3 separate regions of the Homo sapiens genome follow, and regions 2 and 3 are each linked to region 1. The links come from fine-mapping of genetic effects on gene expression. A gene starts in region 1. Each other region holds a variant in brackets. All regions are shown on one strand. Distances are between the middles of the regions. Region 1 holds the start of CRAT (carnitine O-acetyltransferase). Region 2 overlaps LOC105376289 (a long non-coding RNA gene). Region 3 overlaps MIGA2 (mitoguardin 2).

Region 1 (2,500 bases):
CCTGGTTCCCTCCCCAGCGGCGCCCCACCACCCACCTCTCCCCTAAGGCCATTCAACTCAGTCCCTCCTCGGGGCCCCTCAGCTTTTGCCCCTCCAGTTCCTCCGTGTCATGACTCTCGCCCTCCTGAGCCTCCCACACCTGGCACCGCCCCCACCCTACCCGACCCCGGCCCGGCCTGGCCCCGCCGGCCTTACCTGGCGGCGGCTGCCGCTCGCCCTCAGCCATCTTGCTCCGGCCAGGAGCCGACCCGGATGCTTGCAGTCCCCTCTCGCCTTTCACTCTTGCACCCACCCTTCCTCTCCCCGGCTCCACCAAAGGCTCCGAGCTTCCTGAAGACAAGTGAGCGCCGGCCGGCTATAACCGAAAACCGAGAGTTAAAGTCACCACAGCGAAGACGGCCGCCATGTCGGTGCGGGGCGCTCAGGGAGCAAGCCTATTAACGGCCGGCGCGCGGCGGACGCGCGGAACCGGGCGACGGCCATGTCAGTGCGGGGCGCGCGGGGCGCATGCGCGCCAACGGCCGCCAAGCGCTAGGACCGCTCACGGCCGCCCGAACGTCGGGCGCCGCGACTGCCACGATTGTGCGGGGCGTCAAGTTTGGGTTGTGCTCAGCCATGTTTTTCCGGGACAGTCTCCTGTCCCGGAGTACCACCTGTCATCTTTGTGGGTGGTACTGACCCTAACCCAAGGAATATTAGAGGACATTCCCCGGTCAACATGGTTGTGTTTTCCTATCACTCTAAGAGTTAGGCTCAAGGACACCAGACGGAGTTGGAAAGGTGCACACCACTACCTCCAACAGCTTAGAAGACATGTGGGGACAGGGGAGAGACAGCTGGACGGTGACCTCCTCCTTCCTCCTCCACAGGTCTCAATGACTCGCCCTCGGCCCTGCCCCTCTGTCCCCGCCCGCCGTGGTCCCGCCCCCGACTCGCAGCCAGCCTACTGCGACCCGCTACCGGGCGACGCCCCGCCCCTCCGTCCCCGCCCCTCCTGTCCCTCCTCAAGGAGACTCCGCCCCATCGATGCCCCGTCCCCGCCCCACAGCCAACCTCCCGGGCACCGTTGCCCGCCCGGGGCCCGCTACCGGCCCAGGCCCCGCCTCGCGAGTCCTCCTCCCCGGGTGCCTTCCCGCAGCCCGCTCGGCCCAGAGGGTGGGCGCGGGGCTGCCTCTACCGGCTGGCGGCTGTAACTCAGCGACCTTGGCCCGAAGGCTCTAGCAAGGACCCACCGACCCCAGCCGCGGCGGCGGCGGCGCGGACTTTGCCCGGTGTGTGGGGCGGAGCGGACTGCGTGTCCGCGGACGGGCAGCGAAGATGTTAGCCTTCGCTGCCAGGACCGTGGTGAGTGCGGCGGATCCCGGGCCTGAGGGCCCTGGACGGCCTGGGCGGGCCGTGCGGTTGCGTCCGGGAACGGAGACCGCGTCCTGCGGCCGCTGTTCGACCCGGCCTCCAGCTGATGGGGTGGGGTCAGGCGGGCGTCCCAGGTTTGGCAGAGCAGGAGATTGGGGCGCAAGGTCAGAAGCGGGATTAAACCCACGTCCTGGAGCATTCAGTTCCAACGACCCAGGAAAGACAAGGGGGACCCCGGCTTCAGTTAGCACCCCCACCCTTAGACCCAGAGACAGGCCGGTAGGGGAGAGAGACCAGGAGCATCCAGACCCTAGCTCACTCTCCCAGTTATTCTCCGATTGACACACCCGTCGCACGCTTAGGCCAGAGCCACTCCTCCGACCCTGTCCAGTTGGTCACACTCCTTTGGTTTATCAGACGGTCCCTGGGGAATTGTGTGTGGCCAGAGAAACACGCGGAGGCATCAAGCTAGAAAGGCCTCAGAACTGGCAGGTGGCAGCCCCATGGTCTCCCTCCCCTCCAGCCCCCTTCCCCACCCTGGCTGTATCCTTCCCTCCAGCCCCCTTCCCCACCCTGGCTATATCCTCCCCTCTAGCCCCCTTCCCCACCCTGGCTATATCTACCCCTCAGTCCTCCCCGGTGAGCAGCCCGGATGCTAGCCTAATTTCAGTCCCTTCCGTCCCTGATCCAAGCATATGTTGCTGGTGTCTCACTCTGTCTCAGACACACACTACGGGGCCAGAGGGCGGAGGGTGCATCCAGGCTCAGGCCTAGAGGCTCTTTTAGGTGTTGCAACACCCTGAGCCTCCACCGCACCCTTGTCACTGTCTCCCAAGCTGCATCCATCCCACAAACAGCCTCTAGATCATCCTCCAGGACCATCCGACTGGACTGGTTACCTTCCTGCAGGGAAACTGAGGCAAGGAGGGACTTGCCCAGAGTCCCCTGGACCTGCTCATTCAAATCCAGCCCAATCCCAGTGTCCTTTGGTTTATTTTTCATACCAAAAGTCCTCCGCTCTTGGACCCTAGCTGAATGAGCCACAGCTCAGGAAAAAATGAGTGTTCGTAGAGGGATGGCTCAGATGGGTCCCAGGAGTCCTGGAGAGAAACAGGAAATAGGCAGGGCTTCTGGCTGTCCCATCCAC
Region 2 (2,842 bases), 78 kb before region 1:
TGGGCATGGCGGGCATGCCCCGGGCATCCTCATCCCGAATCTTAAAGACAGAAGGGCTCAAAGAGACTCCCTTTCCAGGCTTGGTCTCAGGACCCTCCCCCTGTCAGTCCAGCCTCATTTTTAAGGCCCTGGGGAAGCCAGATGCAGGAGAGTAGAGCCATTAGCATTTGGGTTCTGGGAAATAAGAGACTGGGGTTCACACCCCAGCCCTATGACTTTCTGACGTTGTGAGTCTAAGAAGAGCAGGTGAGCTCTGTGGACCTCAGTTCCCTCTTTCGAAATGGGGCTGGCGACTGCATCCCAGCGTGGGCATCTGCACGCAGCAGTGGAGGGTGATTCAGAGTATGGGCTCCGGAATAGGGCAGCACTGGTTGGAACCGCAGCTCTTCCAATGAGGGATTCCAGCAAAGCCCTGGTCTCTTAAAATCCCCCGTAAAATGGAGATGATACAAGCGCTTGGTGGGGTGTTTTTAAAAATCTTGTGTCATGAACAAGCACACTGCCAAATATATACTCAGTTCGAAAGAAACAATGGTTCCCTTCCCCTCTCCGTGACCCTAATAGGCCGCCCTAACCAACACAGGGACAGAACTAACTAGTCACTAAGTGTGAGATGATGGGGCATGCTGTATGTCATGCCTGCCTTGTAAATGTTCATTATCTCAGTGTTCACTTAGGCTATAAAAAAGTAAATGAACAGGCCGAGCGTGGTGGCTCACGCCTGTAATCCCAGCACTCTGGGAGGCCAAGACAGGAGGATCACTTGAGGTCAGGAGTTCCAGACCAGCCTGACCAACATGGTGAAACCTCGTTTCTACTAAAAATACAAAAATTAGCGGGGTGTGGTGGCACACGCCTGTAATCCCAGCTACTCGGGAGGCTGAGGCAGGAGAATCACTTGAATCCGGGAGGCAGAGGTTGCAGTGAGCTAAGATCACGCCACTGCACTCCAGCCTGGGCAACAAGAGCAAGACTCCATCAGATAGGTAGATAGATAGATAGATAGATGATAGATAGATAGATAGATAGATAGATAGATAGATAGATAGATAAACGTTAACTAGTCCAATGAGTATAATGGCCTGACTTTGCCAAATCGAAGGTGTTATCAATGGTAAGACACTTCTCAATTTTAGAGATGTTAGATATGGGAGGAAGGTGGTGACTTAGAATAGATTAAATTCAGTGTATGATATTACGGTGAGACCATCAAGCTGTGGTTTCATAGAATTAAATATTATCGATTTCATTAGACAATTAGAAAACCCCGTCTCTGTGGGTATATTGCAAGCCACTGTCCCTTCCCCTTCTCTTCTGTCTTGGAAAGGGCATCAGACATAGTAGATACTCAACAAATGTCCGCTGAAGGAGTGAATCGATCCAT[C/A]CCTCTAGTCATCAAAGAATCAGTGAATGAATCAACAGTGAATGGGGCCGGGTGCAGTGGCTCAAGCCTGTAATCCCAACACTTCGAGAGGCCGAGGCGGGTGGATCGCCTGAGGTCAGGACTTCAAGACCAGCCTGGCCAATATGGTGAAACCCTGTCTCTACTGAAAATACAAAAATTAGCCGGCATGTTGTTGGGCGCCTGTAATCCCAGCTACCTGGGAGGCTGAGGCAGGAGAATCACTTGAGCTTGGGAGGCAGAGGTTGCAGTGTGCCGAGATCGCACCACTGCATTTTAGCCTGAGCGACAGAGCAAGACTCTGTCTCAAGAAAAATAAAAGAATGATGCTTGTTGATTAAACAGCAGTGCTCAACCTTAGCAGAAGGACAAGACTGATTAAAACTTTTTTTAAAAGAGGGCCTTCAGCCAGGCATGGTGGCTCATGCCTGTAATCCCAGCACTTTGGGAGGCTAAGGAGGCAGATCATTTGAGCCCAGGGGTTTGAGACCAGCCTGGGCAACATGGCAAAACCCCATCTCTACCAAAAAAAAAAAAAATACAACAATTAGCCAGGCATGCTGGCGTGCACCTTTATTCCGAGCTACTCAGGAGACTGAGGCGGGAGAATCTCTTGAGCCCGGGAGTCGGAGGTTGCAGTGAACCACGATCACACCACTGCACTCCAGCCTGGGCAACAGAGCAAGACCCTGTCTCAAAAAAAAAAGGGCTTCATGCTAGACTGCTGTGATGTGAAAATATATTTTTGTACACATCTGATGCATGAGAAGCTAAACAGTTGTTCACCAAAATCCTTTCAAGAAGGCAATGTTTGTTCATTGAGAAAATACTAATTGGGCATCTATTATTTGTCAAGGACTAAGGAAGCTGCCAAGCAGAGACTTATGGACCTGTCCTCAGGGAATTTACAGTCTAATGGGGGAGATGGACAGACAGGTTAAAAAATAAACATTTTCTTAGTAGCTGTGTGATGAGAGGTGCCCACTATGCCCTCACCCCTACCACCAGCTGAGAGCATCATAGCTTATTTTTGTGATCAATGAACCAGTCAAAGATCCACTTTTTCATTGTTCAAGGCCCTGTGTCAGTGGCAACGCTGTGTATTCACTGAACCAGGTCATTTGGATGTGGAGAAATAGGGCTGCCAGTCCTGGAGCACACCTGAGGACTAAATTTCCCAGGCTCCCTTGCAGCTAGCTGATGACACATGACCCAGCTCTGGCCAATGGAAGGGAGGGATGCCAATTAGGGCTTCCCCATATAACATCCTTCAAAAAGAGAAAGAAGGAGACTTTCATTGGATCAAGCCTCAAAGATGCAGGAAGTTTGTTTTTGTTTTACAGACAGGGGTCTTACTATGTTGCCCAGGCTGGTCTTGAACTCCTGCCCTCAAAAGATTCTCCCACTTCAGCCTTCAGAGTAGCTGGGTGAACCACACTG
Region 3 (2,842 bases), 41 kb after region 1:
TGTCAGATACCAACCCAGGGAAGGGAGGAGGAGCCTTCTCTCTGCCACCCCCCAGCCCGTGCCGCCTCTACTGCAGCTCCCCCAGGGGCCCATTCTCTCGGGGCAGCGCCCCATTCACGCCTGCGCTGCTGGCCGCGGGCACCCCCAGGTACCCCAGCAATATCTCGCTGCGGCGCCGGGACAGCTGCAGGATGTCGTCTGCCAGCGCGGGCAGTGACGTGTAGCGCACATTGTCCAGGTCGAACATGTCCCTCAGGTACTGCACAATCTGGTGCTGGGGGAGCAGGGCTGGTGTCAGGCCTGGCCCAGCCACTGCCCACCATGATGCCCCCCAGGTTACCTGAAGTCCCCTTGTCCACCACCAGAGCCCCAGCCGGTCCTTTCCATCCCCAGGCTCCTCCCTCCCACTGCTTCCTCTGGACCCATGTGGGTCTGGCTCTGCCCTCTCTCTGGGAGCAGGCCCAGGCCCAGGCCCTCATCCCATTCCTGGCACCTCCCAGGGCGCCTGTGCTCAGGGCAAGGGTCAGGAAAGAACGAGAACTGCTCTCTGTTTACCTTGAAGAAAGCACAGACTTCAGCAAGCTGAGGCTTGGGTCCAAGGAAGCCGAAGGCTAGGACAGGGCTCACATGCTCCGATACGGAGTAGAAATGGGAGATGAAGCCATCAGGCACCTGCGGTGGGCACAAGGCTGAGGGGCCAGGCGGGGCCCAGGTAGGATGAGGGCACCAGGCCCAGGTGTCGCATAAAGGGCTGGGCTTTAGAGGTCGCCCCAGCTCATGTACTTTCCTGCTAGATGACCCTGGGCAGTGACTCAAGCTTTCGAAGCCCATTTTAACTTCTGCAGACAGGGTAACCATGGGCCGCTGTGAGTACTGCAAGAGGTGGGGCCATAGTGGCTCCGCGGGAAGTGCCTGGAGCACGTGGCCACGGCAGCTGGTATCAGCTAGGCAACAGAGCCTGGCCCGCAGAGGGGAACGACAAACCACAGGCCAGATAGCACAGCCAGTCGCTGCCTGGGAGCGGAGATTACAGGGGCCTGACTGGGGCGGGGAAAGGGCAGGAGGGACAGGGCTCTGCTTGCTCCTGGGTATCCTGCCCCCACCGAGAC[G/A]CCTGCACCAGGCCAGCTGCCAGCCCTGTGGCCACTACCCTAGGGTATCCGTTCCCCTCCCCAGTGGCCTGCTCTGTGCTGGGCCTGGGGAGGAGAGGAAGTGGGTCTACACGAGCCTCCAGGGAGCTCCTGGCACAGGGAGAGGTAACGGCGGAACAAGGGGGCCAGGACTGTGAGCGGTGAAGGCCAAGTGGCCCAGCGAGCCACCCTGCACCCGCTCCGCTCCCCACCACGCTGCCTCAGAGCCCAGCTCGTGCTCCCCCGGGCCTGCCAGTCACTCACCATCAGCAGCCTCCTCTTGGCTTTCAGGACCGACCAGCAAGCAGTGGCCAAGGCCTACATCAAAAATAGGATGTCCCCCGGGTGTCAAAATGGGCCTAGCCCACAGCCCCTCGCCCTCTGCCAGCCCAGCACCAAGCCCTTAAACCCAGCTCACCCCACTCCAAGCAGGAAGATGGGGCCAGGTGCCTAAGCTCTGCTGCTTCCTCCTCTGATTTTGGACTCAGACATACCTAAACTTGAATCTTGACTCTAATCTTACTGCTGGATCTTCTCTGAGCCTCGGTCTCCTCTTCTGTAAAGGGGCACAACACAGCACTCCCACCTCCTTTGGTGGTTGTGGGAGCAATGGTTCCCGCCTGTAAACCACCTCGCAGAAGCCTGGGCCCAGGCAGCACAGCCCGGCTGCTGGAGCGTTACTGCTTGCCTTCCTGGGGGTCCTGTGCTGGGTTGTCTCTCACTCTGTGCCTTTTTTTCCTTTTGGTTTTGCTTTCCCCTCTTTTAACTTGATTTAACAGGATGCATTAAAATGGAATCGAATTCATACCAGCACAAAAGTAAAACCACACAATAGGAAGAAAGCGCACACCATGTTGGTTCTAAACTGGGGCACCAGGCAGCAACGGGGCACCCTGGAGGCTTCTCCAGGGCAGACTCTGGTCTCCCAGGCCTGGCAGCCGCGGATCTAGGGGGTGGGGGCCCAGCCCTGGTGCCAGTGCTAGGGACAGAGGGGACGGAGCCAGGCAACCACACGGGCTGATGTGAGCAAGTGTGGGTCTGAGAGCAGGGCAGTGACCCACCGTCTCCTTGAAGCTGTCTGACAGCCAGCGGTTCCGCAGGACGGCGAGCACCGAGGCCGGAGGGTTCTCCAGGTCCTCGAAGGCGTCCATGAGGATGAAGTCCAGCACGATGTCGAAGAAGCTCATGCATACCACCTACAGAGGGTGCCCCCGGGAGGCTCATGCATGGGGGCACTGCCGGAGCCTCGGGGCCACTTTCCAGATGGGGAGACTGAAGCTGGGGTCCAGGGCATGAGCACACGTGGGGGGGACACGTCTTTCCCGCTCTGCTGTGCAACGGGTGTAGCTGAGGCCATTCCTCCCTCTGCCTTGGCCTGGGGCAGGGCAGGAACCGGGGACTATGAGCAGTGATGGAACCGTCTCAGCCGCTTGGAACTGAGCTAGAGCTCGGCACAAGAACCCCCTTGCTGCTCAGATGCAGGGGAGCCCGGGATGTCGGGGTTCAGCACAAAGCAACTCACCCCTCGGCCCTCCAGCTCCAGCCGTGTTGTGGCCCAGGTCTCGGGCCGCAGGGCATAGCTCAGCATCTCCTCGTAGCTCTCCAGGAAGCCTTTGGGGCTCTGTGGAGAGAAGCACGGCCCATCCTGGTCACTGGACAAGACCCACAGGGACAGGCTGGCCTGTGGATGGGGGACATGCCAAGGCACGGCTGGG

What was found. PIP is the estimated chance that this variant, and not a neighbour inherited with it, causes the effect.
Region 2: its variant is fine-mapped to the expression of CRAT in whole blood (TOPMed, PIP above 0.99).
Region 3: its variant is fine-mapped to the expression of CRAT in whole blood (INTERVAL, PIP 0.97).

What each region holds. Positions count from the first base shown.
Region 1 is chr9:129,109,327-129,111,826 of GRCh38, reverse strand. It overlaps CRAT (carnitine O-acetyltransferase), which reads left to right and starts at 1,034. Exons shown (of 14, transcript NM_000755.5): 1 at 1,034-1,344. The coding sequence starts at 1,318. PTPA (protein phosphatase 2 phosphatase activator) reads right to left here and starts at 412. Exons shown (of 10, transcript NM_178000.3): 1 at 196-412. The coding sequence starts at 226. RefSeq lists silencers at 99-148, 839-1,278 and enhancers at 1-216, 149-428.
Region 2 is chr9:129,187,018-129,189,859 of GRCh38, reverse strand. The region is part of intron 1 of LOC105376289 (a long non-coding RNA gene); the gene reads right to left. Among named protein-coding and RNA genes, the nearest start is that of IER5L, 10 kb to the right of the region's middle. The variant C/A (reference allele first, on the strand shown) is at 1,385.
Region 3 is chr9:129,067,679-129,070,520 of GRCh38, reverse strand. MIGA2 (mitoguardin 2) reads right to left here. Exons shown (of 16, transcript NM_001329990.2): 12 at 2,650-2,748; 13 at 2,189-2,323; 14 at 1,392-1,445; 15 at 556-672; 16 at 1-274. The coding sequence ends at 68. Among named protein-coding and RNA genes, the nearest start is that of DOLPP1, 12 kb to the left of the region's middle. RefSeq lists an enhancer at 625-764. The variant G/A (reference allele first, on the strand shown) is at 1,110.